4 linked regions of the Homo sapiens genome follow. The protein of the gene in region 2 purifies or fractionates together with the protein of the main gene of each other region. This does not show direct contact. Each region holds a gene or a part of one and is shown on either strand. Other genes may lie near its edges.

The links.
Region 1: the proteins of CD300E (region 2) and SPPL2B purify together in Homo sapiens (affinity purification with mass spectrometry; 2 studies listed by BioGRID and IntAct, with this or other methods). This does not show direct contact.
Region 3: the proteins of CD300E (region 2) and LYPLAL1 purify together in Homo sapiens (affinity purification with mass spectrometry; one large-scale study listed by BioGRID and IntAct). This does not show direct contact.
Region 4: the proteins of CD300E (region 2) and CLYBL purify together in Homo sapiens (affinity purification with mass spectrometry; one large-scale study listed by BioGRID and IntAct). This does not show direct contact.

Annotation. Positions count from the first base shown.
Region 1 is NC_000019.10:2,338,684-2,342,183, forward strand, and holds part of SPPL2B (signal peptide peptidase-like 2B isoform 2 precursor), read left to right. Parts: exon of another isoform or gene 1-68; coding exon 69-158; intron 159-381; coding exon of another isoform or gene 382-385; coding exon 386-525; exon of another isoform or gene 526-607; intron 608-1,140; coding exon 1,141-1,283; intron 1,284-1,392; coding exon 1,393-1,489; intron 1,490-2,214; coding exon 2,215-2,331; intron 2,332-3,500. UniProt on the Homo sapiens protein: Intramembrane-cleaving aspartic protease (I-CLiP) that cleaves type II membrane signal peptides in the hydrophobic plane of the membrane. Functions in ITM2B and TNF processing.
Region 2 is NC_000017.11:74,617,239-74,620,738, forward strand, and holds part of CD300E (CMRF35-like molecule 2 precursor), read right to left. Parts: intron 228-3,500; coding exon 1-227. UniProt on the Homo sapiens protein: Probably acts as an activating receptor.
Region 3 is NC_000001.11:219,180,378-219,183,877, reverse strand, and holds part of LYPLAL1 (lysophospholipase-like protein 1), read right to left. Parts: intron 1-3,500.
Region 4 is NC_000013.11:99,865,190-99,868,689, forward strand, and holds part of CLYBL (citramalyl-CoA lyase, mitochondrial isoform 1 precursor), read left to right. Parts: intron 1-1,050; coding exon 1,051-1,218; intron 1,219-3,500. UniProt on the Homo sapiens protein: Mitochondrial citramalyl-CoA lyase indirectly involved in the vitamin B12 metabolism. Converts citramalyl-CoA into acetyl-CoA and pyruvate in the C5-dicarboxylate catabolism pathway.

The DNA of each region.
Region 1 (3,500 bases), on a different chromosome or scaffold from region 2:
GGGCACAGAGCTGGGGGCCCACCCACTGCTGCGGGTGATGCCTGCCGCTCCCTCCTCTGGGCCCCCAGGTCCCCCCGGGGGGTAATAAGACGCAGTATGATGAGATTGGCATTCCCGTGGCCCTGCTCAGCTACAAAGACATGCTGGACATCTTCACGGTAGGTCTGCGCCGGCTCAGACCCACGCTCCCGAGGAGATGGGGCAGGGGGCTTCGGGCTGGCTGCCGGGGGGGTTTGTGCCTCAGTTGGTGGGATCAGGGTGGTGGGTGAGGCGTGGCCCCTGCAGGCCAGGGTCTCCAGCCCCAGCCCCACAGCCCACAGCTGCACGTCGACCCATGGCTGGCGGGTGGCTCTGACGCCTGCCTCCGGTGTGTTCCTTGAGGCAGCGTTTCGGCCGCACGGTGAGGGCGGCGCTGTATGCGCCTAAGGAGCCGGTGCTGGACTACAACATGGTCATCATCTTCATCATGGCTGTGGGCACCGTCGCCATCGGCGGCTACTGGGCCGGGAGTCGGGACGTGAAGAAGTGAGTTTCGCATCGTGCGTGTGCTGTGACGGGGTCGGGCGGCTCTGACACGGGCCGGGACGGCCAGTCTTCCAGAACAGCAGTGAGTGCTTTGGCCTCGGCAGGCACGGCTCGCCCCGTGGAGCCCTTCGTTTCTTCCTCAGGAGGTCCTGGGACAGAATCAGTCTCTTTTCCTGCCAGGGTGGGCTCCGGGCACCTGGTGGGTGTGTAGGGCTGGGCAGGTGTGGATGTGGCAGGTACGGGCGTGGCAGGTGCAGGGCTGGGCAGGTGGCTGGGGCCAGCTACCCTCTTCCTGCTGAGCCGCCTGGGTCTGGGGAGGCCCCATGTCCAGGGCTCTTTATGCAGATCCAAGCTGCGGTTGCTGCCCACACGCCAGCCTCTGGCCCGGCCTAGTGGCCACCCCAGCTCAACCCAGGGACGCGGGCCCTGCCACCCTCTGCTGTGTGGTCTCCTCTGCCCTGGGGACGTTCGGGGCGGTTCCTTGCACTTCAGTCCCCCCCGGGTCCCCTCCTGCTCCCGGGTTTTCTGCCCCGTTCCCCCGGGTGGCTGTGGGCTCCCGAGCCCCGTGTCGGCCAGCCGGCCCCAGGGCCCCACGACCCCATGGTGTCTCCCAAGAAGGTACATGAAGCACAAGCGCGACGATGGGCCCGAGAAGCAGGAGGACGAGGCGGTGGACGTGACGCCGGTGATGACCTGCGTGTTTGTGGTGATGTGCTGCTCCATGCTGGTGCTGCTCTACTATTTCTACGATCTCCTCGGTGCGCGGCCCCGGGCGGGTGGGCCGCGGCGTGGAGATGCAGCCCGCCCCGTGCGGAGGGAGGGTGGCGTGCGGGCCTGGCCCCCGGCCTCACGGCCCTGCCCCTGCAGTGTACGTGGTCATCGGGATCTTCTGCCTGGCCTCCGCCACCGGCCTCTACAGCTGCCTGGCGCCCTGTGTGCGGCGGCTGCCCTTCGGCAAGTGCAGGTGAGTCTGCCCTGCTGGCCCCGACGTGCCTGACTCTGTGCGGTGATGGCCACGGCCCCTTTGCCGCCCCATAGCCCCCCATGGTGCAATATTGCTCAGAGTCTACAGCAGGCGCTCCCTCAGTGCTGGCCTGGGGCTCCTAGGCCCAGGAGCAGGGCGGAGTCTGGGCGAGCTATCAATGGAGCCCACCAGCAGCCAGGCGCCAGGGGTGGCGGGGGGAGGGTGCCCTTGTCCCCAGGAACCCTGCCCCAGGTCGCAGGCCGAACCCTGGGTTCCCCAGGGTTCTCCGGGGAACCCAGAAGGTTCCCCACAGCCCAGAGCTTGGCCTGGCTCTTAGGGGTAAAGGGAGCTGCTGGGGGGTCTCCAACAAAGTCAGACCTGGGTCTAGGAAGCGGGGCTAGCCCAGGGGGAGACCTTTTTGTGTTGCCGTCCCTGGGTGAGGAGGTGGGAGGTCTGGAGCAGGCAGGGCCTCGGGCGAAGGGGCGCAGCGCAGGCGAGGGGCTCTGTGGGTACAGCCCGTGGCCCCCAGCGCCTGCCCGGGTCGGGCTCTGCCCTGCCCTTGGGGTGCCTACTGTTGTCATCGTGTGGGATGTGGAGTTTAATGAGGACAACAGAGTGGGGGCTGCCACTCTGCAGGGGGTGCCTGGGCCGGTCCCAAGGGTGGTGGGCAGTGGGATGAGGCCGGGAGCTGGTGGGCTTGGCTCTGACTGCCCCGTGCCCCCCAGGATCCCCAACAACAGCCTGCCCTACTTCCACAAGCGCCCGCAGGCCCGTATGCTGCTCCTGGCGCTCTTCTGCGTGGCCGTCAGCGTGGTGTGGGGCGTCTTCCGCAACGAGGACCAGTAAGTGCTGCTTCCCCCGGGCCCCGGCGGGCAGCGGAGTCCTCGGGTGCACCAGGGCTCCTGGGGCCCTGACTCCCTGCCCTCCCTGGAGGCCGCCCCAGCCTGGAGCTGCTTCAGCACCGCGTGATGAAGAGCCCTGGCCCCGGGCTGCTCTGACAGGGCTGCGAGGGCGTTTCACCTGGGGTTTGTCCGGGTGTCATGGGAACCCTGACTGGAATCCGGGAGGAGAGGCCGGAGCCCCTGTGGCCAGGAGCCACGTCCTCCAGCCTGGATGGGACTCCTTTGTGGGGCATCGCTGCCCAGGGCCACAGTCTGTCCCCCGCTGTCCCTTTCCTGGCACCCACGTGCACGCCGCAGGTTCGAGGCCCAGGGTGTGGGCACCAGGGCACCCGGTCCTCTTGGTCATGACTGCTGCGGCTTCTGAGCAGTGGTGGAGGTGGGGCAGGCACTGCTCCCCCCACGCTCACCTCCCACGTGGCCTGGACTTGTGGCTGCCTCCCGCTGGCCGGGCCTCCCCCATGAGGCCGAGTGCCTGGTGCCGTGTTGGGAGGACAGAGCTGGCCCGTCCCCGCCCGGTCCCCACCGCTGTCGCTGATACCATCTGGCACTTCCTCCCAGCCTTCCTGAGGCAGCCAAGTACGCTTGGCTTTGGTGTGTATTGGAGCCACGGCACGTTTAACTGGCAGAAGGAAGATGTGAAAATATTTTGAATCCTTTGTACACAAAGAGAAAATGAATCTTTTCAGTTATTTCCAAGCCAGGAAACTCGCTCCGTCACATGAAGTTAGAGCAGGCCTCAGTCAGCTGGGCGCAGGGGCTCACGCCTGGGATCCCAGCATTTGGTAGGCCAAGGCAGGACGATCACTTTGCCCAGGAGTTCAAGACCAGCCTGGGCAACAAGCGAGACGCCCTATTTAAGAAATAATATAAAATCAGAAAAAATAACTGGCCGCAGTTCTCTGGGTGCTTGAAGTACGTGGCGCCTGGAATTGGCTGTACCAGCGTCTCCCATGGAGGCCTCTGCTGTTAGCAGCCGCCCCGCCCTGGAGATGTTTTTATCCCATTTTCAAATGAAGCCTTTGATGTTTGAGACGCTGAGGAACGCTGGGGAACTCGTCCAGCAAGTGACAGGCAGAGCCTGCATTGGGGGCAGGGGCCAGCGGGGAGGG
Region 2 (3,500 bases):
CACAGTGAAGGCGAGAGCCTCCGGGTGGTCTCTGATGGACACGCGGCCATTCCTCTCCACCTTCTCTTCTCCCTTGGTCTCCACAATGCTCTCACATGACGTGTCGTACTGTCCTCGGCACCAGTACTTGTTATATCCCTTGTACATGCTCTCATACTGACACCACACTGTCAGAGAGTCCCCCGCAGTGCCAGTCACAGAGCCGGGGCCCTTCAGAGACAAACAGCCTGGAAAACACAAGCCCGAGTCCCAAGTCTCCATCCAGATGGCCCCATCAGCAGCCGTCTGTCTGAAGCTTAAGGGGAAGATTGCCAGGGAGACCTGGGTGTTTCCTGGGAGGGGAACCTGGAGGAATACTTGAGCTTAGGACCTAAGCCAAAGAGTCCCTGTGAGAGCAGAAACCTGTCCCCTGTGAGAGCAGGGACACCAAGTCACAGCACAGGGGCCCCAGCACCTGGAGACCAAAGCTGGAGGCAGGAGCAGAGAGGAGCTGGTCATCCCACCTCGTCCTGGGCCCTGCAGCCTCTGCCAGGCATGAGATTTGGTCATATACAAGATCACTTCCCTTTGGAGTGAGACCCATATATTCTGGGGTCTTCTGAATCTCAGGCTTATTCTTTAAAAGCACAACTTGCGGTTTCCTCCACTTTCAGAGTGTTCTTGTGGGAGGAAAAATACTCTCCGGCTCTGATCTTAACCACTCTCCAGAAAGAATCAACATGGCACTGGGAAGAGGGGTTGTCCCCAAAGGAAGCCCTGATAAGCTTCTTTACCTGAATTTGGGACACAAGATGACCCCCCCGACAATAGTCCCCAGGTCTTGGGAGTCAGAGGTCACCATGCATTCAGAGGAAAGAGGGAAGCTGCTCTCTGTAACCAAGTGAGGTGATTTGGGTCCTGGGAGGAAAGTGGGGTTTAGAATCTGGGAGGCAAAGTGTGAGAAGTTGATACGGAAGCAAAGAGAAGGGACAAGAAAGGCTGTAGGTAGGCAGAAGTTCAGGCATTATGGGATGTGATGCTCAGCAGAGCCCCCCAATATCTTAAGCAAGTGCTGAAAAACTGACAAGAGGCTTTGTTTGAACTTGAGTGTATGTGCATGTGCACGTGTGTGTGGGTGTGAGAGAGAGGGAGAGAAAGAGAAACAGTGATGAGGCTGAGCTTTGCACCCCCTCAGAGTAACCTGAGTTCACAATAAGAGGATGAATACGCGCAGGGGCCACGGAAGCTTAAGCCGTTAGAATGAGCAGAAATTGTGAAAGAGCCCCTGGCATCTGTGGGTCCTATGACTATCTGGGCTCCTGAGCTAACTACATCTAGATCTGAGGTGATTGAGGATGGAGGAGCCCCTGACTTCTGGCTTTCATTCATTTCCCTCCCCTCCTCCCACCATCTGCCTTTCCTCCCCACTCTGTCTGCAGCTGGCTCTGTCTGTCATATGCCTTGGCAGATGTGTGAGCTGCCACCACGCACACCTTCCTCACCCCACCAACCATGCTTGGCCTGAGACAATCTCACTGTCACTATCTCTTCCCACCCTCCTGGTCCCTTCCACACTCAGTAGCACCTGTCACCCCCACCCTGACCCCTTCCCAGCCCCTACCCCAAACCCTGCTCCAAACCTGTGTTTTCCCGCTCTGTGCTCCCTTGACCACAGCAAAGTGGCTCCTGACCCCGCACCTTCTGAGCACTCCCCATTTCTCTGCTGTCCTAATTCTCGTAAGAACCTTCCTCGCTCTGGATGCTGTGCCCTCAGGAATCTTCCCATTCCCAAATCCCTGCTCCCCACCTACGTTCTCCCCCAAGAACCTGTTGCCCCGCAGCTGCACACCCCTCCTGAGATTTGAGAGCTGGTCCTCACCTCCTCCCTTCCACCTGCCCCCAGCTTCCTCCTGGAGGTGGCACATCCCAGCAGCACCTCCTTCTAGGTTCTGGACAGAGCTCAGGACTGCATTTCCCACAGTGGGAGCTTGGCAGGGTACAAAGGGCTTGTCACAGCCAAGAGTCTGGTGATGGAGCCGGGGCCTGCTTGTGCTGCTTCCTAAAGGGATCCTTGCTGGAGAGCTTGGGGTTGTTCTTCTTCTGCTAGGATCAGAGCCAGTCCCTTCAGAGCTGAATGTGTCCTAGAATTCCTGCCACTCCAATCAAGAAGATGCCAGCAGCAGATAGGAAGTCAGACTCAAGAGAGCTTTCCAGGCTCCTTCCAGCCCAAAAAGTCTTTAATTCCTCAATTGCGTAAGAGCTGGCCTGGCCTTCTGCCCCTGGCCTCTGGAAAGAGGCTTTCTCCTCTGGAATCTGTCCTCCACTCTCCTGATTACAACCTGGGCTCCTTCAGCCCTGCTAGGAAGCAAATGTTTCACTCCTCCTCTCAATCACACACACACACACATACACACACACACACACTGGGGAGAGCACAGCTGAGGGAGGAAACCATGGGACCATTTTGTCCCTTCCAGAGCCCAGAGCCACTTACTTTTAGCTCCCTCTGGACTGAGCTGTTTCCTTCCCCAGGTCTCTATTGGGTAAATCTCCAGGTTTGGGGGGTCTTTCTGGTTCACAAACTTTACAACTTTTCAAGCCATTCTAAGCCAAGCAAACATCAGTCCCTTTGAAGAGGCAGAATCTCATCCTGAAAAGCCTAAAAGTGCTATTGGGAACCCCAAACCTAGCAAATCTGGAAGGTCACCCTAGAAAAGAAAGGGCCTTCTGCATTCATGATGGCTATTCTCTCCAGTAGGCAACCTTCTCATTGAAATGAAACCAATTCAAATTAATCTTCTGAAAAGACAGAAGATGGTTCTTAAAATGTGGAAATCACAGCTGGGCGCAGTGGCCCACGCCTGTAATCCCAGCACTTTGGGAGGCCGAGGCAGGCGGATCACAAGGTCAAGAGATCGAGACCTTCCTGGCCAACATGGTGAAATCCTGTCTCTACTAAAAATACAAAAATTGGCCGGGTGTGGTGCCTCAAGCCTGTAATCCCAGCACTTTGGGAGGCCGAGGCGGGCGGATCACCAGAGGTCAGGAGTTCGAAACCAGCCTGGCTAGCATGGTGAAACCCCGTCTATATTAAAAATACAAAAATTAGCCAGGCATAGTGGCGGGGGCCTATAATCCCAGCTGCTTGGGAGGCTGAAGGTGAGAATCACTTGGACCTGGGAGGCGGAGGTTGCAGTGAACCTAGATCACGCCATGCACTCTAGGCTGGGCAACAGAGAGAGACTCCATTTAAAAATAATAATCATAATACAAAAATTAGCCGAGCATGGTGGTGTGCACCTGTAGTCCCAGCTACTCAGGAGGCTGAGGCAGGAGAATCACTTGAACCTGGGAGGCAGAGGTTTCAGTGAGCCAAGATCGTGCCATTGCACTCCAGCCTGGCAACAAAGCGAGACTCCGGCCAAAAAAAAAAAAGGAAGTCACTTGTAAAGACTTATATTTCAGAGGTAGGGCAGCAGTGTGGATAAGAGTACTATCTAAAGCCCAGTAAGCAAAGCCAC
Region 3 (3,500 bases), on a different chromosome or scaffold from region 2:
GCATTATTCATTAGATCTCAAAACTGGAAATGATCCAAACGTGCAACAACAGTAGATAAATAAACAAACTGTGTTATATTTATATAATACCTACTTAGAATTTTAAAAATTGAACTATTGATACACACATATAGATGAATCCCAAAAATACCAATTTGAATAAAAGAAGCCAGACACAAGATTCCATTAAGTCACTCATTAAGTGACTCAATTTAACTGAAATTCAAGAACAAGCCAAACTATGCTACAGTAATAGATATGCAAACAATAATACATGAGATGGGAGTTGACTTGAAAGAAGCACAAGGAAACTTTCTGGGGTGATGAGAATATTCTCCAACTTAATTGAGGTAAATAGGTGCATAATTTTACCAAAATTCTCTGTACTATAATTTATCAAAATTAACTATGCACATACAATTTCTGTATTTCACTGTAAATTTTAAAGAAACATGTTAGAACTTATGTCCACAAGATGTCATTAAGAATGTGAAAATGCAAACCACAAAGAGAAGGTATTTGTATTCATATATCCAACAACAATAATAAACTGTATCCAAAAAACTACAGAACTCCAACAAATCAATAGAAAAAGATGACCAAATAAAAGAATGGGCAAATAATCTGAGTGGGCATTTCTTTTGAGGATATTTAAATGCTCAATAAGCACATAAAACAGTGTGCAACATCATTAGTATTAAAGAAATATTAATAAAAATCACAATAGGATACCATTACACATCTACTGGTTTGGCTAAAATTAAAAAGACAATGGAAAGTGTTCAGGAGGATGTGAGACAAATGGGAATCTTGAATACTGCTGGTGAGGCTGTCAATTGTTACAGCCTCTCTGGAAATATGCTTGGCATAGTGTACCAAAGTTAATAAAGCTTAACCTGCTTTTATACATTTCATTTTCACTCATTTCTATAAATACTGGCTTGGGTAAAGCCACATAATAGTAAGCATCACTTCCATGTAACAAGAGATTAGATACATTCTAGGACAAAACTGGCCAACTAACAGGCAGGTAAACCCTGAATATCATTTACATGCCATCAATGGAATGATTTTACAAGCCAAGTGATATCTTCAATATACCTTATAGGAATAACATAGTCAATGAAATATCCATAGTACAGAAAAACTTATGGGTTTACAAGTGGTGAAAGAAAAAAATCAGGAGAGAGAATAAATACCAGAAATGTGGACAATATCAGAAAGTATGTAGCAACATGTTAAAGCATGAAACCTTGATAAATTTTTAAAAAGGTTATTAAAATTCATTTTTATCCTGTACCAATCACATTAAAAAGAGTGAGAGTTAAGGAAGGCACGTATCTATCACATGCCTCCTTTTGACGTCACCGGAAAGGTAGCAAGCAAGGTAGATGACACCAGAATCTCTCTTATTAGCAGCACAAGAAACATTGCCATAATAGATGGAAGGTAGCAACTATCCTTAAAACCGCAAATGAAGCCATATTATGCTACAAAAGCAACGACAATAAATCTATGCCCAAACTGCTTGCCTAAACAGGGTAATGTGTTAGGAACACCAGTCAGAAGTCTTAAAACAGCAAAGTACACCATGAATGCCAGAGCATTCTAATAAAATACTATCAAACAGCATTCTGAAGTCTGGAAACCAGTTAAAAGCTACAGGCTTAATGATACCGCAGTGCTCCTCAATTTGAGACTCATTAGTTAAAACTGGCCCATAATCTGGTGCTCACTCAATCTATTGCAGGGTCAAGTCTTAGGACAAGTAATTGCAACCCCTTATGAACAACAATTCTTAGGTTATTTACCACAACAAAATACACTTTTTAAAACCTCACATAGGCATAAACTATTACACAATTAAAATATTAGTATTATATATAAATACCCACAATTACTCATTCCTATTACACTATTTTAAATAACAACAACAAGCAAATACTGCAAGATATTTATTCAATCTTCACTAAACATCTATTTGTCAGGTTCTATGCTAAGTGCTTAGAGATACAGTATCCCTCAGTGTCTGTAGGGATACAGAAGTAAGTATCATATAAACTGCTCTAGAAAATTAGTCCAGCATAAGGTAGGAAAAAAATCAGCTAATTATAATATACTAAGTATGATATCATCTCTCTTAACTGACCTCCACTGAATTGCCTCATAGTATTAACCAAAGCCATGTATTCCTATATCTAACGCCCATGGAAGACCAAATGGTCCAGATCAAGAGGCTTCATTCTTGCACACCCTCACACTTTTGCTCCCACAAACTGAGCCTTATGCTTTTTATGCTTATTAAGAGTCAACTATGTTTGTTCTCAAATTTGTTTATGCCAGTTTCATTTTCTATTGCAATTAAATAATTTAATATTTAAAGTAATGTGTTGGAAATCTTCTATGTTTTGCTACTAATAAGTGAAAACTTGAGCAAACCAATAAGTAAAAATGATGACTTGATCTAGAACAGTGGCTCCCAATCTACTGTATATGGGAACTCCTCTTTAAGTTCTAAAACTAAGCTGTAGAAAATGGCAGCCCCTAACCACATAAGGTTATGAAGCACGTAAATGTAGCCAGGGCAACTTGAGGAACCTAATTTTTACTACTATTTAATTTCAGTGTAATTATTTAGCATCAGAAGTAAGATGTGTCGTACATGTAAAACATGCCAATTTTCAAAAATTTAGTGTAAAAAATATAAAATATCACTTTAATAATTTTATACCGATTACATGTTGAATATTTTGAATATACTGGGTTAAATAAAATATATTATTAAAATCAATCTTACGTATTTCTTCCTTTTTATAATGTGGTATCAAGAACATTTAAATTTATATGTAGCTCATATTACATTTCTATTGGTGAGTATGGTCTAAAACGTTCGATGATCTGTTCAAATAGCTATTGGTTATAAAACTGTGTAACAAAAAGTTACCATGAAGCTGGTCCAATGATTTCATATTTTACTAAATCACAACAGCACCCACAAATAATGCTTAGTGCACATGGAGATTTTTGGATTTTCTGAAATAACTCTGGCCTAAAGTTTGAGAAATACTGCCTAGAATTCCTATCACAATTGGTAATGACATGAAATTCTTAAGATAAAAAATATTAATTCCTAGAATAAGGTTTTCAGTGGTCTTATGATTAATCAGACAATTGTATTTATATTTAGGTAGAAATGAACTTATCTTTCATCCCTGCAGAAATACCACTATGTTTCTTCCTTCCAACTTCAACTATCCTAAAAATCAGTAACAAGAAGCTTTTTTGACATTTTCAAAGACATGCAATTTATAGCACAAAAATAACCACTGGTGATTGGGTCTTTTAACTAGATTACCAAACTTTTAAACTCTATTAAAATTACATTTAAATAATAACTCCTTTGAGTCTTCAGTCTTACATTATCATTTTGTTCTCCCTTTTTCAATTCTATCAATTAAAGTAAGTAAATTCTTATTAGTACATATAAAAACGTCCTTGAA
Region 4 (3,500 bases), on a different chromosome or scaffold from region 2:
ATATGGCATCTCCTTTGCTCCTAATAAATATATTATGTGAACAGCCTCACCGTTGCTTCAGTATTTTGTTTTCATATCAGTCTGTGGGCTGTCTAGATTTCTAACGCAAATTTAAGGCAATTTCACATTTGCCTTAATGAATTGTTTTCTACAGAATATGCGGTAGGTAAATATTATTTTAAATGGATCTTAAATTTCTCTTACAATATGTTTCGAACTCTTAGTATTAAATGTGCTGATTTTCACCGATTCTCACCATCCCTTGTGAGCTGCACTTGAGGGGTCTGCATGTTTGACTGGAGACCGTGAAGCATTTAGAAAAGAGGCCGAGGCCACAGAAACCAGCCCCAGTGACCTGAAGACAGGCACTTTCCCTAGGCAGGGAGTGGCATGTTCCAAATGTAAACAGGGACACTTCCCTCCCCTCAGGGTGAAAAAACTGAATTTATTTGAATACGAGTCTTTCCAGGAGACTTGTGTATCCAACGGTTCAGCGGGCTACAGAAGGCATATCGATGCTTTCCAGCCCTCTCAAAACAAGTGCCCTCCCGTCTCCCCAAGTTCTCCATCCAGACAGACCCTGAAGCTGAAGCATTTGGCTCAGAACTTCAGTTTGGACAGGGCAATCGCAGCACACACAGTTCTGTGCTTGCTGTGAAACACGAACCATTGCCCTGCATAGCTGCTGGGCCACCCTTTGTGGTGCTGTCTTTGGACTGGCACTTTTCAAGCGATGATAAGAAGGAAAAAAATATATCAGGAGTCCCTTGCGACCCTGACCCAGCCTCCCAGAATGGGGAAGGGGCCTTCTCTTAATGCAGGTAGAAGTAATTCTATTGAAAGATGCCTTGTCAGTTAAACAGACACATTCGAGGTTTAACTTGGCCTCCACGCGTCCCTGTCTTCATTTGTATTTCAATAATTTTATTTTGCGGAGGAGCAATTTCCAGGGAGGTTTAGATATCTGTACAAACTGAGGTTTTATAATAAATATCTGGGTGCGGTTTCCAAAGTTAAAGCCTCCTTTTTCTGTTAACATCCCATTTTCAGGTGCAACAAGTAGTAAAGAAACCCTGGATATTCTCTACGCCCGGCAAAAGATTGTTGTCATAGCGAAAGCCTTTGGTCTCCAAGCCATAGATCTGGTGTACATTGACTTTCGAGATGGAGCTGGGCTGCTTAGACAGTCACGAGAAGGAGCCGCCATGGGCTTCACTGGTATGATTCCTGTCTTAGAAAGCAGTGTCTAAATTAGCAAGCATTCCAGAAAAATAGAAATTTGACCCGAAAACACCCCTAATCTCATCAGATATCTCCCATACTTACTCCACTATTTGAAATATGAGCAAGTCACACAGGGGAAGAACTTGCCAGACACATTGTCATGGTTTTCCTTGGCCCTGCAAGTCAACAAATCACTCATTTTATTTCCTCTTTATATTAGTTGCTTTTTTTTTTTTCTCTCCATCCTCTTAATCATTTTGTTGTAGTCTTGGCTGACCTGTAGGGAGGGATGAGGCTGCTCAAAAAGTGTTTTTGAGTGAACCGCCATAAGAATTTTGGTTGATGGACAGAAGAAAAATCTCCTAGAATATCCAAAATTTAATTCATTTCTGAAAAAAAATGTTGGTGATATTGTCTTTGGTTTTTGTTTTGTTTTTTACTCATAACTAGTTTTTTGCTCTTCTGCCACTCCAAGCCCCTCCTCTCTCTCCCACCTCCCAGTAAGTGTCCGTGTACCTGGCGACACCTACGGGCATAGGCTGGCACTAGGATCAGCGGGTCCCTTGCAGTCCGGTCTGGGGCACAGGCGGGTATCTGTTGATTGGTGTGCCTGGTCACTCAGGTCCCCATGAGCCAGGGGAGCAACAGAAAATTGTGTTTTTACAACAGAGATCTATTTTTCGAAAAACCACAATAGGAGTCTACACACAAACATACACATGGAGTTGCACACACACAAACTGACAACCATGGGAAAAACACAGTGCACTCCTTCACTCTTACCTGTTCTTCTGTTGTTGAAAGTTCTAAGAATATTAATATCAGAAAGGCACCCGAATAATTAGGAAAAGAGACGAGCATCCTGATATTCCTGTTATAACTGTTTTTGAAATATATCTAGGTAGCGGTTACCGAAAGAAAGGTTTCATAAAGCAGGCTTAAACGTGAAAAATATCTTAATGGATGATGATTTAGTCCAAAATAAAACTGAATGACCTAAGAAGCTATTCTAGTGTTATATTCAAATTAAATAAAGCTCTGAGTTTGTTCTTGTGTTTTTTACACAAAGAGCTAAAATAAATATGACCCCCCCCAATTTTTTAAATAAGTGTGATCTCGTATAGGGAAATACTCTTCAATTATCTGAACTATTAATAAACGAATTCTCCCTGCGTTTCATAGCGACTGAGGAAGAAAGGAGTCCTCTGCCACATCCATGCAATTGTGCTTGTTCCTGCCTCTTTCCAACGGCTGGTTAGGATGTGACCCAAATGGAAAAGTTGGAGAAAAACTCCATGAAATTTATCTAATAGACCCTGATGTTGTTGGCCTGCAATGTATGGCACTGGCTGCCAGGTGGCCAGATGTTGCTCTGAAATGGGAACTAATTCGATAAAAAAGAGAAAGCACTGCATCGACACTGGCCCCTCCACCATCACCCAGCAGAATCTGAGTTTCCTCTGCCTCCTCTGGGGTAAATGTTTGCCCCAGAACTTCTCTGGGAGCTGGAGAGTGTCTCCAAGATACAGGACTGAATTAACTTGGCCCCTAATTCAATCGCAGAAGACAGGCTATTTCAAATCAGGTTTAAATTTCTAGACTGTGCCCAGCTCAGCACGAGAAGCTTATGGACCTGGCACTATTGTTTCTCCACGACGGGGAGTATTAAATCGCTAAAAAAAAAGGGGGGAAGCGAGGATAATGGGAAGGCACAGAGGGCACAGTGCCCATTATATATTCAAGGGAACGAGGCCATAACTAGGGAGCCACACTTCGTAGGCAGTTTGCAATTTTTAGAAAGTCTTTGTTGCCCCAATTATATTTCTGCATACCAATAAGAGGTAATCAATCTGATAATAAGATAGATTATTTGTAGTCATTTTTTAAATAAATGTTTTTTAATGAGTACTTTAGACCACTCAGGATGTTTGTCCTAGTTGTTTGGCATTTGATTGCCATACCTTGGGCCTTGCACAAGGAGAAGAAAAAGAAGGAAAGAAAAAAAAGGAAAGGAAAAGTGGGGAGGAGAGAGGGAGGGATGGAGGAAGGAAGACATGTCTTATCTGAAGCAGGTGGTTGAAAGGTTTAAAATCCAATGAAAGTATTGTGTTATCCATAACGCTGGTAAGGAAGACTAAGTCTGTGCTATAAGGATTGCCTTTACTTTTAAAAATGATACATATTTTTAATGAGTTGTAGTTTTTAAAAGTTAGCTGTAGTTTCTTTTCTGCGGTCGTTTCCCAGAGTCACAGTCCATGTCGATTGATTTTAAATCA